Homo sapiens: one gene and its partners. The protein of the gene in region 2 binds, or shares a complex with, the protein of the main gene of each other region. Each region holds a gene or a part of one and is shown on either strand. Other genes may lie near its edges. A codon is read from its position in the direction of its gene.

Evidence for each region. The genes of interacting proteins can lie anywhere in the genome.
Region 1: the proteins of CALM2 (region 2) and CKM are in contact, whole or in part, in a crystal structure (PDB 7BF2), measured with the Homo sapiens proteins. Residues at the interface, in NP_001734.1 of Homo sapiens: Glu85 (codon at 2,762), Ile86 (codon at 2,759), Ala89 (codon at 2,750), Val92 (codon at 2,741), Phe93 (codon at 2,738), Met110 (codon at 2,260), Asn112 (codon at 2,254), Leu113 (codon at 2,251), Gly114 (codon at 2,248), Glu115 (codon at 2,245), Leu117 (codon at 2,239), Met125 (codon at 2,215), Glu128 (codon at 2,206), Ala129 (codon at 2,203), Phe142 (codon at 1,246), Met145 (codon at 1,237), Met146 (codon at 1,234); in NP_001815.2 of Homo sapiens: Pro306 (codon at 5,364), Phe308 (codon at 5,370), Glu310 (codon at 5,376), Ile311 (codon at 5,379), Leu312 (codon at 5,382), Arg314 (codon at 5,388), Leu315 (codon at 5,391), Arg316 (codon at 5,394), Gln318 (codon at 5,400).
Region 3: the proteins of CALM2 (region 2) and TRPV5 are in contact, whole or in part, in an NMR structure (PDB 5OEO), measured with the Homo sapiens proteins. Residues at the interface, in NP_001734.1 of Homo sapiens: Lys22 (codon at 3,077), Asp23 (codon at 3,074), Ala89 (codon at 2,750), Val92 (codon at 2,741), Phe93 (codon at 2,738), Ile101 (codon at 2,287), Ala104 (codon at 2,278), Leu106 (codon at 2,272), Arg107 (codon at 2,269), Val109 (codon at 2,263), Leu113 (codon at 2,251), Gly114 (codon at 2,248), Glu115 (codon at 2,245), Leu117 (codon at 2,239), Asp119 (codon at 2,233), Glu120 (codon at 2,230), Glu121 (codon at 2,227), Asp123 (codon at 2,221), Glu124 (codon at 2,218), Met125 (codon at 2,215), Ile126 (codon at 2,212), Glu128 (codon at 2,206), Ala129 (codon at 2,203), Val137 (codon at 2,179), Phe142 (codon at 1,246), Met145 (codon at 1,237), Met146 (codon at 1,234); in NP_062815.3 of Homo sapiens: Thr675, Ala682, Pro684, Ser686, Ser687, Leu688, Ser689, Arg690, Thr691, Gln694, Ser696, Ser697, His698, Gly700, Trp701, Ile703, Leu704, Arg705, Asn707, Thr708, Leu718.

Annotation. Positions count from the first base shown.
Region 1 is NC_000019.10:45,305,884-45,312,875, reverse strand, and holds the end of CKM (creatine kinase M-type), read left to right. Parts: intron 1-955; coding exon 956-1,127; intron 1,128-4,343; coding exon 4,344-4,467; intron 4,468-5,225; coding exon 5,226-5,415; intron 5,416-5,947; coding exon 5,948-6,126; 3' UTR 6,127-6,463; downstream 6,464-6,992. UniProt on the Homo sapiens protein: Reversibly catalyzes the transfer of phosphate between ATP and various phosphogens (e.g. creatine phosphate).
Region 2 is NC_000002.12:47,159,557-47,166,513, forward strand, and holds the end of CALM2 (calmodulin-2), read right to left. Parts: intron 3,107-6,957; coding exon 2,963-3,106; intron 2,837-2,962; coding exon 2,730-2,836; intron 2,303-2,729; coding exon 2,167-2,302; intron 1,249-2,166; coding exon 1,220-1,248; 3' UTR 528-1,219; downstream 1-527. UniProt on the Homo sapiens protein: Calmodulin acts as part of a calcium signal transduction pathway by mediating the control of a large number of enzymes, ion channels, aquaporins and other proteins through calcium-binding. Calcium-binding is required for the activation of calmodulin.
Region 3 is NC_000007.14:142,923,718-142,930,746, forward strand, and holds part of TRPV5 (transient receptor potential cation channel subfamily V member 5), read right to left. Parts: intron 6,730-7,029; coding exon 6,632-6,729; intron 6,464-6,631; coding exon 6,341-6,463; intron 5,849-6,340; coding exon 5,711-5,848; intron 5,404-5,710; coding exon 5,305-5,403; intron 5,150-5,304; coding exon 4,974-5,149; intron 4,518-4,973; coding exon 4,371-4,517; intron 2,025-4,370; coding exon 1,812-2,024; intron 1-1,811. UniProt on the Homo sapiens protein: Constitutively active calcium selective cation channel thought to be involved in Ca(2+) reabsorption in kidney and intestine. Required for normal Ca(2+) reabsorption in the kidney distal convoluted tubules.

The DNA of each region.
Region 1 (6,992 bases), on a different chromosome or scaffold from region 2:
TTCAAGTGTTTCTCGTGCCTCAGCCTCTTGAGTAGCTGGGATTACAGGCGTGTGCCACCATGGCCGACTAATTTTTGTATTTTTAGTGGAGACGGGGTTTCACCATGTTGGCCAGGCTGGTCTCAAAATCCTGACCTCAAGTGATCTGCCTGCCTTGGCCTCCCAAAGTGCTGGGATTATAGGCATGAGCCACTGCGCCCAGCCTACAATTTTTTTTTTTTTAAAGATTGGGGTCTTGGGCCAGGCGCCCAAGTGGAGAAACCCCGTCTCTACTAAAAATACAAAATTAGCCGGGCATGGTGGCGCATGCCTGTAATCCCAGGTACTTGAGAGGCTGAGGCAAGAGATTCGCTTGAACCCGGGAGACGGAGGTGGCAGTGAGCCAAGATCGCGCCATTGCGCTCCAGCCTGGGCAACAAGAGCAAAACTCCGTCTCATAAAAAAAAAAAAAAAAGATGGGGGTCTTGCTATGTTACCCAGACTGGACTCGAACTCCTGGGCTTAAGTGATCCTCCTGCCTCAGCCTCCCCAGTATCTGGACTACAGGCTCGTGCCAGTGCACCTGGCTACCATTCTACTTTATAATAATTTTTACTAATGGCCTCTCAAAGTCCTGAGACTTCAGCCATCTGTGTTGCCAGCCATTAGGAGCAGGCACCAGCACACTGTGGCCTGCAGGTGGATTGGATGTGAGGGTCCCTCAGGGGAAGAGGTGGGTCTGTTTTCCAGATTGAGCACATGGGGTGGCCATTCCTGGGGGCCTGGACAGATGGCAGGAACAGATTTTGGGGAGCCGTCACAAGTGTGGGTTTAGACACAGGGTTCAGGTGCCTTTAGGACATCCAGGGGGCCAAGGCCCAGGCCCGTTAGGAGCAGCAGCAGGGGAAACCCTGGGCCTCCACACCCTGGTTGAGGTGGGACAGGCTGCTGACCACTCCCTCGTGTGTCCCCATAGCTCTCAACAGCCTGACGGGCGAGTTCAAAGGGAAGTACTACCCTCTGAAGAGCATGACGGAGAAGGAGCAGCAGCAGCTCATCGATGACCACTTCCTGTTCGACAAGCCCGTGTCCCCGCTGCTGCTGGCCTCAGGCATGGCCCGCGACTGGCCCGACGCCCGTGGCATCTGGTGAGGCCCCTCCCCGCCCCCTGGCTTCCTCTTCCCCCAGCCTCCTCCAGTCCTGCAACGGCCCTCCTCACTCCTCCACCAAAACCAAGGCCATATACGTAATTATGATCTTCTAAATGCCACGGAAAATGATCTTGCCCTCCGCCCCTGCCCATCCTGTGGTCTGTGTGTCAGATTTTGGGATATCTGGACCGGAGAAGTGGTAGTTAAAAACTTAAGACTTGGCGGGGCACGGTGGCTCATGCCTGTAATCCCTGCACTTTGCGAGGCCAAGGCGGGGGGATCACTTGAGGTCAGGAGTTTGAGACCAGCCTGGCCAACACGGTGTCTACTAAAAATGACAAAAATTTAGCTGGGCGTAGTGGCAGGCGCCTGTAGTCCCAGCTACTTGGGAAGATGATGCAGGAGAATCGCTTGAACCCAGGTGGCGGAGGTTGCAGTGAGCCGAGATCGTGCCACTGCACTCCAGCCTGGGCGACAGAGCCAGACTGTCTCAAAAAAAAACAAACAAAAAAGAAAGAACTTAGACTTGGCCGGGCACAGTGGCTCACACCTGTAATCCCAGCACTTTGGGAGGCTGCAGCAGGAGGGTCGCTTGTGCCCAGGAGTTCTAGACCAGCCTGGGCAACATAGGGAGACCACGTCGCTACAAAAATTAAAAAAAAAAAAAGCCAGGCGCGGTGGCTCACGCCTGTAATCCCAGCACTTTGGGAGGCCAAGGTGGGCGGATCACGAGGTCAGGAGATTGACACCATCCTGGCTAACACGGTGAAACCCCGTCTCTACTAAAACTACAAAAAAAAAAAAAAAATTAGCCCGGCGTCGTGGCAGGCGCCTGTAGTCCCAGCTACTTGGGAGGCTGAGGCAGGAGAATGGCCTGAACCCAAGAGGCGGAGCTTGCAGTGAGCTGAGATCGTGCCACTGCACTCCAGCCTGGGCGACAGGAGACTCCGTCTCAAAAAAAAAAAAAAAAAAAAAAAAAAAAAAAAGCCAGGCGTGATGGCGTATACCTGTGGTCCCAGCTACTCGAGAGGCTGAGGATCAGCTGGGCCCAGAGGATTGAGGTTACTGTGAATCATGACCGAGGTACTGCACTCCAGCTACCTGTCTCAAAAATAAGAACTCAGACTTGAACCGTACTCCCTAGGTTCAAATCCCAGCTCTACCATTTACTAACTTTACTAGCTTTGTGACCTTGGGCAACTTATTTTATTTTTCTCTACCCCAGTTTCCTAGCTATAGGATAGGGATCACAATAATTTGTAGTTTCTGGTGTTCTTGTGAGGATTAAATGAGTTAATTTATGTAAAGTATTAAAAGCAGTGCCTGGGCCAGGCGCGGTGGCTCACGCCTGTAATCCCAGCACTTTGGGAGGCCAAGGCGGGCGGATCACGAGGTCAGGAGATCGAGACCATCCTGGCTAACATGGTGAAACCCCGTCTCTACTAAAAATACAAAAAATTAGCTGGGCTTGGTGGCAGGCGCCTGTAGTCCTACTTACTCGTGAGGCTGAGGCAGGAGAATGGCGTGAACCCGGGAGGCGGAGCTTGAAGTGAGCCAAGATCGCATCACTGCACTCCAGCCTGGGCGACAGACCAAGACTCTGTCTCAAAAAAAAAAAAAAAAAAAAAAGCAGTGCCTGGTATACACTAAGTGTTCAGTACATCTTGGTTATTCGTCTTATCTTTATTATAAAGTATTATTGCTAGACTTGTTTTGACTCTTTGAATCCCTGATTCAGATAGTCAAAGATTTAGAGAACCTAGGTTTCAATCGATGAAGGGAGCCTGGGTGCTAAGATATACAGATGGGATGATTCTAAGATTTCAAGATTTTAAATATTTTTAGGTTTTAAGATTCCACTCATTTATTTATTTATTTATTTTGAGATGGACTCTCACTCTGAGGCCCAGGCTGGAGTGCAGTGGGTTGATCTCGACTCACTGAAACCTCCATCTCCCGGGTTCAAACGATCCTCTCACCCTCCGCCTCCTTAGTAGCTAGGACGACAGGCATGTGCCACTGTGCCCAGCTAGTTTTCGTATTTTTGGTAGAGACAGCGTTCTGCCATGTTGCTCAGGCTGGTCTCGAACTCTTCACCTTAAGTGATCCGCCCACCTCAGCCTCCCAAAGTGCTGGGATTACAAGCGTGAGCCACCATGCCTGCCCTCAGGTTTTTTTTTTTTTTTTTTTGAGACAGGGTCTTGCTCTGTTGCCCAGGCTGGAGTGCAGTGGTGGGATCATAGCTCGCTGCAGCCTGGACCTTCCAAGGTCAAGTGATCCTCCCGCCTCAGCCTCCCCAGTGGCTTGGACTACAGGCATGTGTCCCACCATGCCTGCTAATTTTTTAAATTTTGTAGATATGTGGGTCTTGCCATGTTGCCCAGGGTAGTCTTGAACTCCTGGGCTCAAGCAATCCTCCGGCCTTGGCCTCCCAAAGTGCTGGGATTACAGGCATGAGCCACCACACCCGGCCATTTCCGGATCTTAATATTTTATGTTCTTTTTTTTTTTTTTTTTTGAGATGGAGTCTCGCTCTGTTGCCCAGGCTGGAGTGCAGTGGCGCGATCTCGACTCACTGCAAGCTCCACCTCCCGGGTTCTCGCCATTCTCTTGCCTCAGCCTCCTGAGTAGCTGGGACTACAGATGCCCGCCACCATGCCCAGATTTTTTTTTGTATTTTTTAGTAGAGACAGGGTTTCGACGTGTTAGCCAGGATGGTGTCGATCTCCTGACCTTGTGATCCGCCCGCCTCGGCCTCCCAAAGTGCTGGGATTACAGGCGTGAGCCACCGCACCCAGCCTTAATATTTTATGTTCTAAGATCCTGCTTCTGAGATGCTAGGATTGGGAGCTAACACACTACGATGGGAAGATTTTCTGGTCCTGAAACCAGATGTAGGATTACCAAGTGTTATCAGTTCTGATCCCAAGCTTCTGTTTGTCAAACATCCTGAGATCCCAAGGATCTATAATAATACTGTTCAAAGACTTAAGTCCCTAAAAGTCCTTGATCCCAGGATTCAGCGTTTTGCAGATCCTGTGACATTAGAGTCTACAGGTTTAAGCTTCTGCGTTTTGAGGAGGCAGATGCCACCCACCTCCCACCCCTCAGGCCCTCTTCCCCCATCGGTGGGCAGATGTTTTGGGGGAGGGCTGGGAATGGGGTTCCCACGGGGCTGACACCTTGGCCTCTTGCTGCGGCACCTTACTCTAGGCACAATGACAACAAGAGCTTCCTGGTGTGGGTGAACGAGGAGGATCACCTCCGGGTCATCTCCATGGAGAAGGGGGGCAACATGAAGGAGGTTTTCCGCCGCTTCTGCGTAGGGCTGCAGAAGGTGGGTGTCTGCCCTTAGCTGCTGACTTCTGACTCCACCTTGAACGCCCCACCTGCTTTCCGAGGCCCCGCCCCTTCCCCTATACTAAGCCCTGCCCCACCCATTTTCCAGGGCCCTGCCCCCCGGACCTGGCTCCACCCCATGCCAAACCCCGCCCCCCAAAACTAGCCCCACCCGCTTTTCAGGGCCCCGCCCCTGGACCCAGCTCCACCCTATGCCCAAGCCCCGCCCGTAAGGATCCGCCTTCAGGCCGGGAGCGGTGGCTCACGCCTGTAATCCCAGCACTTTGGGAGGCTGAGGAGGGTCAGGAGTTCAAGACCAGCCTGGCCAACATGGTGAAACCCCGTCTCTATACTAAAAAATTAATAAATAAATAAATTATCCAGGCGTAGTGGCGCGCGCCTGTAGTCCCAGCTACTCGGGAGGCTGAGGCAGGAGAATCGCTTGAACCTGGGAGGCAGAGGTTGCAGTGAGACGAGATCACGCCATTGCACTCCAGCCTGGGTGACACAGAGAGACTCTGGAAAAAAAAAAAAAAAAAACCCGCCTTCAAAGCGTTCTTAGTCCCCGCCCCTCAAAATCCTGCCTTGGTCCCCATTGTCTAGCCAGCACCCTCGGAATCTCCTACCTCCCTGTTCCCCTCAGAATCCCACCTCCACCACGTTCCCACGCCCTGTCCCTCCGGACCCTGTCCATGTTGCGGGTGCATTTGGGGGTGCCTGCCGGCGCTGACCCCTGGTCCTCTCTCTGAACCTCAGATTGAGGAGATCTTTAAGAAAGCTGGCCACCCCTTCATGTGGAACCAGCACCTGGGCTACGTGCTCACCTGCCCATCCAACCTGGGCACTGGGCTGCGTGGAGGCGTGCATGTGAAGCTGGCGCACCTGAGCAAGCACCCCAAGTTCGAGGAGATCCTCACCCGCCTGCGTCTGCAGAAGAGGGGTACAGGTACGGCTCCCACATCCTTTGCACCACGACGGAGGGGGAGCGAGGGCCCTTTGCAGGGATGCAAGGAGAGGTGCGACATCCCTGCGAGTTCTGGGGATCCGGCAAGGGCTGACCCTCTGTGAGCTTGCATTTCTTCCTCTGTAAAATGGGTGTCAATATGCCTATGTGATAGGAGTCAATGTGGGATTTTCATGATTATATAATATGCATTGCACATGCCCTTGGACCTCCCTCGGGGCCTCAGTTTCCCCATTTATAAAGCGAGGAGTGGTCAGGATTCGACCCTAGGCCGCCTGGCTCCAGAACCCACTCTCTTACCCACTATACTATGTTTGATAACTGAGTGGCGTGGTACCCCATCTGAAGTCAGAGACTCGTGAGCTCACGAATGAACAGGCATTACCTGTGTGCAGGTAACCTGTTACACAGTAGGCACTCACTACATGCGGCTGTTGCATTTGGCACGGGGGCCACGTCCCAGCCCCTCTGCACCTTCGCTGCCTCTTCACGCCCCTGTCCCTTGCTCCCACAGGTGGCGTGGACACAGCTGCCGTGGGCTCAGTATTTGACGTGTCCAACGCTGATCGGCTGGGCTCGTCCGAAGTAGAACAGGTGCAGCTGGTGGTGGATGGTGTGAAGCTCATGGTGGAAATGGAGAAGAAGTTGGAGAAAGGCCAGTCCATTGACGACATGATCCCCGCCCAGAAGTAGGCGCCTGCCCACCTGCCACCGACTGCTGGAACCCAGCCAGTGGGAGGGCCTGGCCCACCAGAGTCCTGCTCCCTCACTCCTCGCCCCGCCCCCTGTCCCAGAGTCCCACCTGGGGGCTCTCTCCACCCTTCTCAGAGTTCCAGTTTCAACCAGAGTTCCAACCAATGGGCTCCATCCTCTGGATTCTGGCCAATGAAATATCTCCCTGGCAGGGTCCTCTTCTTTTCCCAGAGCTCCACCCCAACCAGGAGCTCTAGTTAATGGAGAGCTCCCAGCACACTCGGAGCTTGTGCTTTGTCTCCACGCAAAGCGATAAATAAAAGCATTGGTGGCCTTAGCTTTGTGCGATAGTTATTGAGGGAGGACGTGCAATTGGCCACTGTGTGGTCTCAGAGTGGTTTGTCCTGTCTAGGCATGTACTAAACATGTCTTATCCCGGGTCTAAAATGAGGCAAAGTTAGGTCACAGAATCTAGTCCAAAAATTAGAAGGCTCTATGGGGAATCTGAGACCCAGAGAGACACTGAGCCCAGTGTCACTCACCCAAAGCATGGGCCCTTTCCAACTATGGCTTTGAATTAGTCATGCTCAGATCTCAAACACGAGGTCCACGCTGGGGAGGAATGCAGCCAAACGAAATGTCTGAAACTTGAATTTAGCCCAACGGTCTCCAGTTTTGAGACCTCCCATGCAGCTCGTCACATCTACCTATATTCTGCTTCTCAGTGGCCTCCTTCTGTCCCGTCTGACTTCATCCCTCTGTAGCTGCTGCCAGTCCCTTACTTTCTCAAGAACCTGCCATGGCTCCCCATTTCTCCTAGAAAGCTTTTCTGTTATTTTGCAACTCAAGGCCACACTGAAATGCAT
Region 2 (6,957 bases):
CAACATGGACAAATGCCAAAGTTGAAAACTATAAAGGTAGGAAACAGTAAATACCTACTTTATGCCAATTCCCATACTAGGTACACTTAAGTTTTTGAGTCTTTCATTGGGGCCTTTTGAAGTTGTCAAATACAATCTGGATAAAGAAACAAAACAAAAAACTTGCCCCTCTTTTCCCATGACTGCCACCATCTTGTTCTGTGGGCAGAGGCAACTCACAGGTATCCTGGATCTAACACAGTAGCACAGTACGACACACATGGTGGTGGAGGAATGTTGTGGGCACGCATGATGGTGGCCCCCAAAAGGTGACTACACTAAGCCAGCCCCCATAGATCCCCATCTTTTCGGCCTTCCTCTTCAATCTCTCCTTAGTTACACCCCTTATTTTGTTCCTCTTATTTTCTGTGCTTCTCTCCCTCTTTTCTCACTTTTCCAATCCTTTTCTCCTTCCTTTCCCACCTTCACTATTTCTGCCACCCATCTCCATATGCTTCCCCACACGAGAAAAAATTATCTAGACTATACCAAGCAGAAACCAATGCCATATTTTATTTTCAAAATTATTAGACTTCAACAGTTAAATGACTCAGATGCAGAGCAACCATTGGGTAAATTGTAATTTTTTTATTGGAAAACAAATATACAACTTGGAATGGATTTTGAGGCAAATTGTGCCATAAGCAGATTTTAAGTGGCTAAACAAAGTTTAAAAAGCAAGTAACAATAAAAGAAAATGTTTCTGGTACAGGACCAGCAGTACAAAAAAATAGTGTACGAGTACCTGGATAATACACCCGTTTTGCAATAGTGCAACTTTTAAGTACATATTGTTGACTGTCCATAGTCCACGCAGAGTTACAACTCCACACTTCAACAACAACATGCTGACAGTTCCTAAAGAAAACTACTTTAAAAAAGGCATAACCCAGATGTTCCCTCATTTGACCAACTCCATCTAAGTTTAGATGTGCAGAAGGGCTTAGATATATCCAGAGTAAGCCACATGCAACATGTTACTTGATCAATTTTCTAAAATAAGGTTTTAGGACAATGACAGTAAGATAAGGGAAGAAAACATGGAGGAATGAAGTCCTAATTACTATACATGCATATTTTTTTGACAGTAGGGAGAAACCTTTTACAGATAAGTTACAAACAAAGAAAAGGCAAATAAACAATTTTGTACAAGAAATTTAACACATTCTGTACAAGGTCTTCACTTTGCTGTCATCATTTGTACAAACTCTGAAAAAGAAGAAGTACACAAAAAATGAGTCAATAGCAAAAGACCAAAAAAAAAAAAAAAAAAAAAAAATCACATTTACTCAATTACTGAGTACTCTTTCCATTCCTCTCTTTCCTCAGAATTACCATTAAGTACAGAGGGAAGCTAGTTTATTGCCCAGGCTGGAACTTCATTAACCATAACTATTCAGGTTTATTAGTAAGAGCCAAATTAACGCTTTAGATAGGCCAATATAAAAAAGAGCATTCTTGGCTCTTAGTTTAGACTTGAATTTTAAGTCTGCTGGATTACAAGACAATATTGTAAATTCAATGCTATGGGCTAGGTTTAATTTTTATAACATTACATTTTATGCTCTTTTCTAAGTTAAGTAGTTACATCATGAAAAAAATACAGAGTTTTACTCAAAATCCTTCAGTTTCATATGCCTTGCTTCCTGATATGGCCATCTTAAAAGTTAGTAGATACGATACTTTTGAAGCACATGTAAACTTCAGTTTCAGACTAAAGCCAATTAAAGAAAAAAGACAATACAGTGCGGGGAAAGAAAGTCACATTAATTTCATTTTAGGAAACTTGGAATAAGTTTGCTTTCCACATTGTTCCACAATCACACAAACACTGAACAGTGCTTCTCAAACTTTATACATGAATCACCCAAGAATCCTATTAAAATGCTGATTCCAGGTGTAGGGATAGAACCTGATAGTAAATATTTCTAAATTAAGTTCTCAAGTCAGAGCAATGTTACCTAGTCTGCAGACAACACTCTGAATTTTAAGAAGGTTAAATGTAAGTAACTGTTTTAGCAACCTAATTTCAGGGGAAGGGTCACTAATTTCGATCAGTTCCCTAACAAAGAGCCTCTTATCTTAAAAATCAAAGTGAAGAATGAGGCGTGAGACTGAAACATTTACCTTCATAGTTTACTTGACCATCACCATCAATATCTGCTTCCCTGATCATTTCATCAACTTCTTCATCTGTTAACTTCTCTCCAAGGTTTGTCATCACATGGCGAAGTTCTGCAGCACTAATATAGCCATTGCCATCCTAGCAAAAAATTTAGTATAGTTTCTGAGTCAAATTACAGACTTGAGAGTTGGAATGGAAATTTATTAAGTTTACTACTAAATTTCACATTGGGGGAAAAACATACTTTAGAAATGCATACAAATCTACACAGTTGACCTACAAATGTCATTAAGAGCCAAGCAAAATGTCCTACATTGAAATCATTATTTCCTAGTCCCAAAGTCAAGTGACACCTCCTTTGACAAGATGAACGCAATACATATATTAGAAAGTCTATACTGAATTCTTAAAAAGCTTTTGCTTGGTAATTAAAATATGTTGGTAAATCATCAAAAAAAAAAAAAAAAAAAAAAAAAAAAACAACCAAAAAAACACAAGTCTTCATAATGAGTCCTGGTATCTTCATTTCATCCTCAAAATTTAACATATCCAGTCCTTGACGTACCTTATCAAACACACGGAATGCTTCTCTAATTTCTTCTTCACTGTCTGTGTCTTTCATTTTTCTTGCCATCATTGTCAGAAATTCAGGGAAGTCAATTGTGCCATTACCTGAAATGGTTTAGTGGAAACATCAAAGCTTTAGTGGAAACATATAAGCAAACAGCAAAGGTTTAGTGGAAACATCTAAGTATCACTTCTTCAACCCCTCCCAGCCCCACAAAATTGAAGACTTACCATCAGCATCTACTTCATTAATCATGTCCTGTAACTCTGCTTCTGTGGGATTCTGCCCAAGAGATCTCATTACAGTTCCCAATTCCTTTGTTGTTATAGTTCCATCACCATCTTTGTCAAATAGTGAAAAAGCTTCTTTGAATTCTGTTTGAAAGAAAGACCACAATCCAAATACACAGATTAATAATAAAATGTAACCTAAATGAAACGTATTAACTCTTAAAGCCTACTCAGTGGTGGGATCGTGCCAGTGAACAGCCACTGCACTTCAGCCTGGCCAAACTGTAAGACCCCACGTCTCAGAAAAACCCAAAAACTTTTAACGGAAAAATACCAATGGAGGTAGCAATTGAAATGTGACTTTGACTCCTAAAGATTAACCAATCTTTATGATACCTTATGATAATATTTCAAATATATCTTTGACCAATCATACCACTGTACTTTCATGCTGACCTAAGTAAAATTATCCTAGGTTTACAGAGGAAAAGAACCAAATCCCCAAATGACTGGCTCCTCTGTCACTGAAGCTGCTCTGTGGAACATAATTCAAAATTACAGACCTAACCTACACTCACAAAACAAAAATAAGACTACTGGTACCCAAATACGTATTTCTACAGAGTAATTAAACTGTTTCTGTATACTGTGTTTAGAGTTAGCCACTATGTCTAAATCAATCACCTACTAAATTAAAACAGGCTACTTTCCCTTTCTAGTAAGGCAGGAGAAGGGACTATATAAAGAGTCTATAACAATGGGCTGATCAAGATATAAATGTCCAGTTTTAGCTAAATGCATGTCACTGAGAACAAAGATCATTTTGAGCTTTCTTTGGAATATTAAAACCCCAACCTTATATAGTGAAACTGATTATTCCTCAACATCTTGTTGTGATAGTATGTTCCTTCCTGCTGTTGTTTTTTTTTTTGAGATGGACTTTCGCTCTTGTTGTCCAGGCTGGAGTGCAATGGTGCAATCTCAGCCCACCGCAACCTCCTCCTCCCAGGATCAAGCAATTCTCCTGCCTCAGCCTCCCGAGTAGCTGGAATTACAGGCATGCACCACCACGCCCAGCTAATTTTCTATTTTTAGTAGAGATGGGGTTTCTCCACGTTGGTCAGGCTGGCCTCGAACTCCCAACCTCAGGTGATCCGCCTGTCTCTGCCTCCCAAAGTGCTGGGATTACAGGGCATGAGCCACTGTGCCCGGCTATATGTTCCTTCTAATACATCACTAGATTACATGGAAACCTCCTGCTGGTGCAACACTCCAGACTACCTGGCTTCATTCACCATTTACAGATAAACTAAAACAAGCCAGGTGCAGTGGCTCACACCTGTAATCCTAGCACTTTGGGAGGCCAAGGTGGGCAGACTGCCTGAGCTCAGGGTGAGTTCCAGACCAGCCTGAACAACAGGGTGAAACCCCGTCTCAGGCCGGGCGCGGTGGCTCAAGCCTGTAATCCCAGCACTTTGGGAGGCTGAGGCGGGTGGATCATGAGGTCAGGAGATCGAGACCATCCTGGCTAACACGGTGAAACCCCATCTCTACTAAAAATACAAAAAAATTAGCCGGGCGTGGTGGCGGGCGCCTATAGTCCCAGCTACTCGGGAGGCTGAGGCAGGAGAATGGCGTGAACCTGGGAGGCAGAGCTTGCAGTGAGCTGATATTGCGCCACTGCACTCCAGCCTGGGCGACAGAGCGAGACTCCGTCTCAAAAAAAAAAAAAAAGAAGAAAAAGAAAAGAAACCCCGTCTCTACTAAAACACACACACACACAAGCTGGGTGTGGCGGCGTGTGCCTGTAGTCCCCCGTCTCTACTAAAACACACACACACACACACACACACACACACACACACACACGCTGGGTGTGGCAGCGTGGGCCTGTAGTCCCCCGTCTCTATTAAAACACAAACACACACACAAGCTGGGTGTGGCGGCGTGCGCCTGTAGTCCCAGCTACTGGGGAGGCTGCAGCAGCAGAACTGCTTGAACCCGAGAGGCGGAGGTTGCAGTGAGCCGAGATCACACCACTGCACTCCAGCTTGGGCAACAGAGTGAGACTTGTCTCAAAAAAAAAAAAAGAAAGAAAGAAACTAAAACAGACTAACTTTGATACTGCAAAGTTATACCAATCAGTAAATAATAAAGCTAGTATTTTCCAAGTAAGTCATTTCCCAGAAAATATTAGACCCTATCAGCAAATGAATACAAAAAGTTTCCAAGTTCATTGGGCCATTAAGCTTTCCCAACATAGCCATACATTTGAAAATTTATGTGACACATGTGTAAGAAATGGTGTACCTTCTTTACGGTCCAAGGCCAATTTATTCCCTGCCTGCTTATCCCTAACTCCAATTCGCGTACACCTTCCAGTTTCATTCCGTATTACCTCTTCCCTGGACTCAACTATTCTTCCACTAATTTGCCCATTACCACATAAATATCTTCACATCGCTTAGCCTAAAACTAAATTGAAACCTTAGTTATATTTTAAATGCTTGCCCTTATCCCTCCCCAAATTTTGGAAGGCACTACTACTCATACCAATTTCCTCTCTCCAAACAATCCACTATTTTAAAATGACATCCAGCTCCAACTCATCACCTGAAAATGCTGAGTTTACCAATGACTACTAGTCAGTCACCCAATCCATCAAGCATGCTTCAATGTGAAGCCATATGGCATAGAAACTAAAATGAGACTTTGTAACTTGACTACTGGGTTAGAATTTCCTAGCTCTGTTTCTTCTTCTGGCAATGCAATATGGACAAGCTACTAAACCTTTTCTGCCTCAGCTTCCTCATTTCTGTGAAATGACATAAATGTGCCCAGTAAGTGGGGTGACACAGTATACCATGCCCACAAGGGGTATTCACCTGGTCACCCCCCATAAAAAAATTAGTATGTGTCAAACACTTAGAACTATGTCCAACAAATACATACTTAATAAATGTCAAGATAAAGACTATCTCATTTTTTTGCAGCATCCAAAACTGCATGGAAAAACTCTCAAAATTTTTCTTGGCCTTCGTAACAGTACTTTGATTTTCCTCCTACCATATACTGCCAAAGGCTCTTACTCCTGTCTCTTATGTCTAGATGTGACCAATTTTATCCTTTTTTTCCACTCCTTGGCCACTTCATCTATACCCACTTACAACGAAGATATCTTTAGTCTACCCATCTCGCTCAATAAATGTCTTTATTTCTGGCTGTCTACAGGATATAGCTCCCCTGGCTGATGACAAGCAAAACATATGAAAATGAATTCTATACTCCCAGGCAACCCTAAAGGTACTAGCAAAAGCCCAAGAGCCACTTTTAACTCTTTCAGTCTGAAATCTGTCAACAGGTCTCGAATTCTATCATTTAAATACTGCCTGATTTTTCCTCCATCTCTACAACCAGTATTTTGGTTCAAGGCTCCATCGTCCTTTGCCAGGGCTATTACAATTGCCTCCTAACTGCATTCTTTCTTATTTAAATATTACTGGTTTATAGAGGAACTCATCTAATACCAATCAGAAGGTTCATACCACACTAATTGATTTTATGAAGATAGTATACAGTGCTAACCTAGATCAACCTAATGACAAAAATAGATCAGGGAGTCTCCACCTACAAATAGCACAATTGATAAAGACATTTCAATTTTACTGTTTTTAAACAGAATGTAGAAATATCTAGAAATACATATATTGGAGTTCAGACACATTGCACCTTTCACCTAATTTAGGTTACAAGAAAATTAAAGGACTTTGAGGTATTTGTTTATATTACATTCTCTGCTATGGGTATCTTTTAACACCACCATTAGGTGCATAAATTCCCAATGTTTAATTAGCAGTAATCACCTTTCTATTACATGATTTAACAAAAAGCTAAATACTGGAAGATGCATAGTGTAAGACTATGTATAACTTTCGAGAAATTTAAAAATCTAATAACACTTAAAATGTTTGCTAGAATAAGTAAAATGCAGAAAA
Region 3 (7,029 bases), on a different chromosome or scaffold from region 2:
CTGAGTCCTGAAGCAAAGGAGGCGGTCTTTTACATACAGACTATCTGGATCAAAGAAATGTGATTGTACATAACTAGCCCTGTCCCAAAGAGAAAGAGACACACAGGAAGGAGAGTTTTGGTTATCAGTGGCTCAGCATTGCCCACCTTTTAACCCAGAGTCCTGTCTACCTTCAAAATGCAGAAAATCTCCAAGTAAATTTGAGACAAAGGAAGGTTGGAGAAGACATATCTGAGGAAATAGGGCCAGGAGCATTGGAAAAGTCCAGTCATCCCCACCTTGTTTGTGTTTTCTCAATTTCTAATCACTCCTCCCTCCACTTGCCATCTCCTAACTGTCCTTATTTTCCTCATGTCTCCATGCCAGGGACAACTTTTGCGGCCAGACTGAGATGCATGCAGCACAACTGCTTCCAGTGTCTCTAACACATTCAGGCTTGTCCTCCCCAGGCAGCAAGACCTACTTGGTGAGAGGCAGTGTATCTGGACACATGACACACTGTATATATATACATATATATATATATACATATACATGTATATATATACATATATATATATATACATATACATGTATATATATACATATATATATACACACATATACATGTATATATATACATATATATATATATAGACATATACATGTATATATATACATATATATATATATATACATATACATGTATATATATAAAGGCAATTCTAAAAACAGGAGAGATGGAGTGTCTCTACCTAGCATAGGGTTCATTTGGGCTCTTTGCCCTGTTCTTTCTCTGTGCATATCGCTGTCTTTGGTCTAAACAAATTCAGGATTTTTGCTTCTTGGCTATAGAAAGTTTATATTCTCTTTCCGACTGAAACTACCCTGCTTCCTAGTCCAGGCTGAGCTATACCTATGGCTGCTCTCTCCTGCATTGAGATAAATCTCCAATCACTCAGTTCTCACTTGCTTTGCAAAATTCTTTTTCCTGGTCTTTTGCTTTCTGCTACATACCTACATCACCTTCTGTGTATTTTCAGCTCACCAGGACAAAAATTTTAGTAATCCACAAAGAGTCAACCCCTCAAATATAGCTACAGTTGTTAAATATATATATTCAGAAGTGCTCATTAGAGTCTACCCTTTCTGTTGCACAAAAAGGAGGTTTACTTTCTTCAACAGCAGATTTCTATATTTACTGTGTACCTCGAATCAGTCCTCTTCCTAACCCTAGTTTTCCCTTGGCCACCACAACACAGAATGGCAGGCCCACAACACTAAATGGAGCCTCAGAGAGTATTTACTTCAGCCTGATACCCAATCCAGACATCCTTCTGCAGAGTGTCTGACAGGCAGTCAGACAGCTGACACATTATTCCCATGGGCCCATATAGACAGCACACAGAAGAGGGTGCAGGCCAGCAGGGCTGTCTGTGTTGCCCAAATACAACAAAAATGGACTCAGAAATGGACTTGGAGCACAATTTTCCTCCTTTTGAGCAATAGAGTTTACCTTGAACATCCCACTAAAAAACCCTGATACTTTTTGTAAATTACCAAAAAATTTCACAAAAGCACAGGCTTACTCATGCCAAGCACTCTTTCAAAGTTTGTGTGAGAAAATCCACAGCTCCCTGGACAAATGCTCTTGTGCTCATTAAACCCCATCTGTGGCCTCCTGGTCTCATGTCTAATTTCTACCTGGGTGTTTAGGAGCCTACACCTGCTGGAACCCAGAGCGTGGCATCGTCCCTGAGTAGCATGGCTTCGTTTCCAGCACCATCACCCCTTGATGCAATTCTCTCTCATCCCCTTCTGAGGAGAATCACCTGTAGTAGTTTTTGCTGGAGGATGGTGATGTCTCGAGAATGAGTGCGGTTGCCACCACGAAACTTAAGGGGGCGGTAGACGCAGCACGTAGTAAAGCAGATCATGTAGAGCAGGTACAAGGCAGCCAGGATGCAGAAGTACGGCCGGCCATACTTGTTCCACTTGAAGCTCACCAGCTCCTTCACTGGGGTCTGTTCCAGAATTTGGCGAGCCTGGCATGGAAGTAGAGTGAAACTTGGGGTGACCAACACAGAAGGATGTTGTTTATCCCACTGGGGGCCAGAAGAGGCAGGGCAGCAACCATCACTCACTCAGCTCATCAGTCACTTATTTGACGGACAAATAGTATATTTCCTGCATATGGCTGGGCCTTGTGCTAGTGATACAGGTAAATGACTATAGCAGTAAACACAAGGCACCATAGCACCAAAGAGGATTTAAAGGATGAGTAGTAGTTAGATGAGTAAAGGGAGAGTTAGGAAAGATCATACCATAAGCTAACAGCAGTTGCCAGGTCAGGAAGGTCTGAGAAGCCATTGCCCATTTGCAGTTGAGATGTGGTTGGGGAGAGGGGAGAATCTATTGGGAGTGGTAGTCAGAAATGATAATGACTGAGGAAGAACAGGGCCAGGTCATCATGCATCATAAATGCCAAGGTAGGAAGTTTGCATTTTTTGTTTTTTCTAAATATAACAGAAAGCAACTGGGGAGTTCAAGCAGGGAAGTGGTCAGATTTGCTCTAGAAGTATTATTGGGCTGGAAAGAAGCAATGGAGGTTACAGGCAGTAGGATGTGGCAGGGTGGGATGGTGCTCTGAAATAAGCAGCCAGTGAGACGTTAAAGATACACAGGAGAGGGGATGATGGACGGGAGGAGGCATCTGAGAAATTAGAAAGAGACAGATTCAAAGCACAGTAGAGTGATTAGCCATTAACAGCATGAATATCTTTTCTACTGAAGCTGGAGGGGAGGAGAGAGACAGTGGGCAGTTTCCAGACATGCTCGGCAGTGTAGGGCAGGAAGCTGAAGGATCCCCAGCCAGAAAGCCTCTATTTTTGTCCTAAATCAGGAGTCTAGGTCTTCTGAACTGCAGCTGAAGGTAGTGAAGGATGTGAAAGGGGGCTAGAAAGGAAGATTTATGGAGGAAAAAAGCAACTGACCCAAGACACTTATGAAACCTGCTGGAGAATATTGAGAATAGCTTAAATCAAAGACCAAGGATATGTGGTGGCGAAATCCACACAGTGGGATTGTGCTTTTAATACCTAAGAAATCCTGCTCAAAGTGTATCTGTTTCCAGGGATATTCTCTGAGGAAGATCTCACAAACTAGCCACTCAACTTTTCTTCTATTCGTTAGTATTAATAATCATTCATGTTTTCTGGATCTATAAGGATTCCTGGGAAATTGTCACTGTGGCAGATACAAAACAGAAACTACATCTTGGCACTCTCATGGAACGTTCTGAAACCTGGAAGTCTTTTCTCCTCTCTACTGCAGTCTTCAACAAATTTTCGTTTCCCTCACATCACTCAACCCAGCATTGTTGAATGGTCTATACGTTGCTCCCTCTCTAAAAAGCTCTTTTTTTTCTCTCATCTTCCTGTGACTCCCAATTCTTCCTTGAAGATCCAGCCCCAGCATTTCCTCTGTGACATCTTCTCTGGTCTATCCAAGCCAAGTTAACTCTACCTCAATGTGGCTGTCTGCATGCATGGTACACACAACTATTACGGCATATGTCATGCTCTGTTGCAATTATTCAGGACAGGGACTGAGAATTGAGGAAGTTGATGAACAGGAACTGTGTTGTATTTATTTCTGTACTGTTTGTTTCTTGTGCAGTGCCTGACATACAGCGGGTGTTCAATATGCTTGTATTAGTCCATTCTCATATTACTATAAAGAACTACCTGGCACAGGGTAATTTATAAATAAAAAGGTTTAATTGGCTCATGGTTCTGCAGGCTGTACAGGTTCTGGAGAGGCCTGAGGAAACGTACAATCATGGCAAAAGGCCAAGAAGAAAGCAGGCACATCCTACATGGCCGGAGCAGGAGGAAGAGAGAGCAGGAGGAAGAGAGAGCAGGGGGAGGTGCCACACACTTTTAAACAACCGGATCTTGTGAAAACTCACTATCACGAGAACATCAAGAGGGAAGTCTGTCCCCATGATCCAATCACCTCCCACCAGGCCCCTTCTCCAACACTGTGGATTACAATTTGACATGAAATTTTTGCATTTGGACACAAATGCAAACCATATCAATGCTGAACCAATGAATGAATATGAGGAAACAGCTCTTATTTGGAGTTTCTCATCTGAAATGATAGAAGGCGAAAGGTAGGCAGAAGGGACTGGAGCTAAGCAGAGAGACAGGGGATTCAGGAGAGGAGTGTGCATTGGACTTTCCCCCATGTCCCAGGAGACTATTCTCATCTCCACCTATTATAAGGCTGGGAAGTGTCTCAGGCCCAGGATCTTAGTAAGTGGACAGACTCTGCACAAACACTAAATTCCCTCACATGACAGGCCTGATCCTCCTTGGCATCCATACCTCTCGTTTATCAGAGGAGACCACAAGCTCCAGGAAGGACAGCTCCTCTCCCCAGGAGTCGATCTCCGTGAGGTCGTAGAGAATGGAGGTCAGGGGTCCATACGTCCACTGGATGTGCCTCCGCTTCTGCATCAGGTGCTGGAACATCTGAGAGACCACCAGGATGAGTCAGGGGGCCAACGTGTGAGAAGGTGGTCGAGGAGAACAACTCCATTGGATGGAGCCAGTTGCCCACCCCTTGAGACAGACAGACAGTGGGAACCAGCAAACCTCTGCATCTACAAGCTTTCCCTTTTTTGTCATCTTTCCTGCTCCAAAACCCCAGAAAGTGCAGAAAGAAGAAAATAGGCAAAGGAAGCTAGAGCTTTGGGTTATCACAGCACATGCATTAAGGTAAGGTTCTCAAATCCTCTTGAGTCAAGGACCATGAAGCTGAAGATTTCAGTGATGGAATAGGAAGCAAGGGACCACCATCCCTTTGGGGAGTTTGGGGAAAAGGGATTTTAGAGAAAGGTGGGCCCTTCACCTCTATTTCTCCCAGGGCCAGCAGGATAGGTTGAGGGTCATTAGAAAGACACCTCAGGGATGGGGAGCGTCTCTTACCACAGTGTTACCCTCCACTCCAGCCAGCTTGAAGGGGGTGAGACCCTGGTGATTGGGCACAAGGTCCAGGGGCTGCAGGTGGTCCCCATGTCCATCATAGGACAGCAGCAGGTTGTACATCTGGCAGGCAAAGGTTTTGTTGGGCTGGAGGATGAGGATGTGTAATACTGTGTTTCCTGGGGAGGACGCAGGGTATCATGTGGCCACTGGCCTAAAGTCCCTGATGTCCCCATCCCCACTCTGGGGTCTTCCTAAAGGTCCCAGCTCCACTCCTTACCCTGTCCCTCGCTCCCCACAGCATCCCAGCTCCCCTCCCCATCCCAGCTCTTACCCAGGGAGTCCTGGGCCCTGATGTCAGCTCCATGCTCAATGAGCAGCCGCACGATCTCCTCGCTGTTCACACAGGCAGCAAAGGACAAAGGGTGCTCCCCTGTGGACACAGAGAGATCCATGGCAGGAGAACGCAGGATGGCAGGATGGGGTGGGCAGTCTCCCCCAAATAAGGGCCTCCTCCTCATCCCCCATATCTCAGTTCTAGGCTGAGGGACACTCGTCCAGCAGAACCAGAGGAAGGAACCATCAGGGGAATGGGCCTCTGGCTTAATTAAGCCCTAGAAGGGCTGCCCCTCTCAACTGCCCAACAGATGGAGCTGAAGGCAGGACCCTCATGCCCTGGCCTCCCTCTGCCTTGCCCGCCTCTCCAGCCAACCATCCTTCAAGCCCAACCCTGCTCTCACCAAAGTAGATGAGGTTGCGGGGACTATGGCGGAAGGCAGTGCCTGTGGCTCTGGCAGAGACACTGGCCCTGCGGGTGAGCAGGGCACGCACCAGGTTCACATTCTGGTTCACAACAGCGATGTGCAGTGCAGTCTGACCTGGCCCAGAGACAGCCATCATCAGGGTCTCCCTCTGTCCCCAGTTCTCTCAGGGACACAGCATCCCCCACCATCCCTCTCAGGAGGTTCCTGATAGATCTTTGCTAGACTTCTGCCCTGGGCTTGGCAGGGTGGCCTGGGACTAAGAGCAATTCATCCCTCAGGCTGCCCTGCTCATTGACCTACCCTTCAGTTATTGGGAGCCAGCAGGGGATTGCTATGAATATAATCATTCTCATGTTGCTATGAGAGAAAGAAATTGAGATAGGTCCTACAGGGACTATGGGAGGTTTGAAAGGAAATGCTGAAGGAAGCCACAGATTGGTAAAAGCCAAGACCAGGACCTTTGCATTTCTCCCAACTCAACGGAGCCCATCCTCCTGACCCTCCATCACCCCACCCCAACCCATCCTTCAGAGGCCAATTTTAAGAGACAACAGCACACCCTCCATCTCAAAGTTTCCACCTTGAATTACCATGTAGGCTCCTTACCTGCAAAAGCCTCACATGTGGTGGGCTCAAAGACCAGCTCTGGGGCAGCCTCCATCAGCACCAAGGCCGCCTCCAAGTTGTCATAGAGGGCTGCTATGTGCAGCGCCGTCTCCCCCAGGGCTCCTGGATTGGAGTAAGACAGAGATGTTAGACACTTTTCAGATTCCCTTGAGGAAGGGGCCTCAGGCTCCAGAGACACCCTCCAAGGCCCTATTTCACAAACTCGAAGTCTTGGGGAGGAGGAGTAGGTTCTTCTGCCCCCACCTCCATCCCATTAAATCCAGATCCCACCTCTTTGTCGAACGTCACAGGTGCAGTCCAGTAGAAGTTGCCTAAGAACAGACAGGTCATTTTCCTTGGATGCTCGAAGCAGTGGAGACTCTAGAATCCTGGGGAAAGGTGAACGTGAGTTTGGAAGAGACAGTCATAGCAGAATGAGGCCAAGAGCAAAGGGGATCTAAGACATTCTTTAAGACCAACGTGACTCACACAGCGTGCAGTGACAAATTGGAAAGAAGTGCCTACTGGACTCGAATGACCGAGGGTGGACTTGGGCAAGGGTCAGCCCCAGGGCCTTCCTTGCAATTCACATCATGGTGATTCTCCTGTGAGGATGGCCCTTGAAGCTCTGCTGGAGGGGAAGAGTTAATAGGAAGAGAACCTGTAGTCTGGAAAGAGTGGTCTGAGAG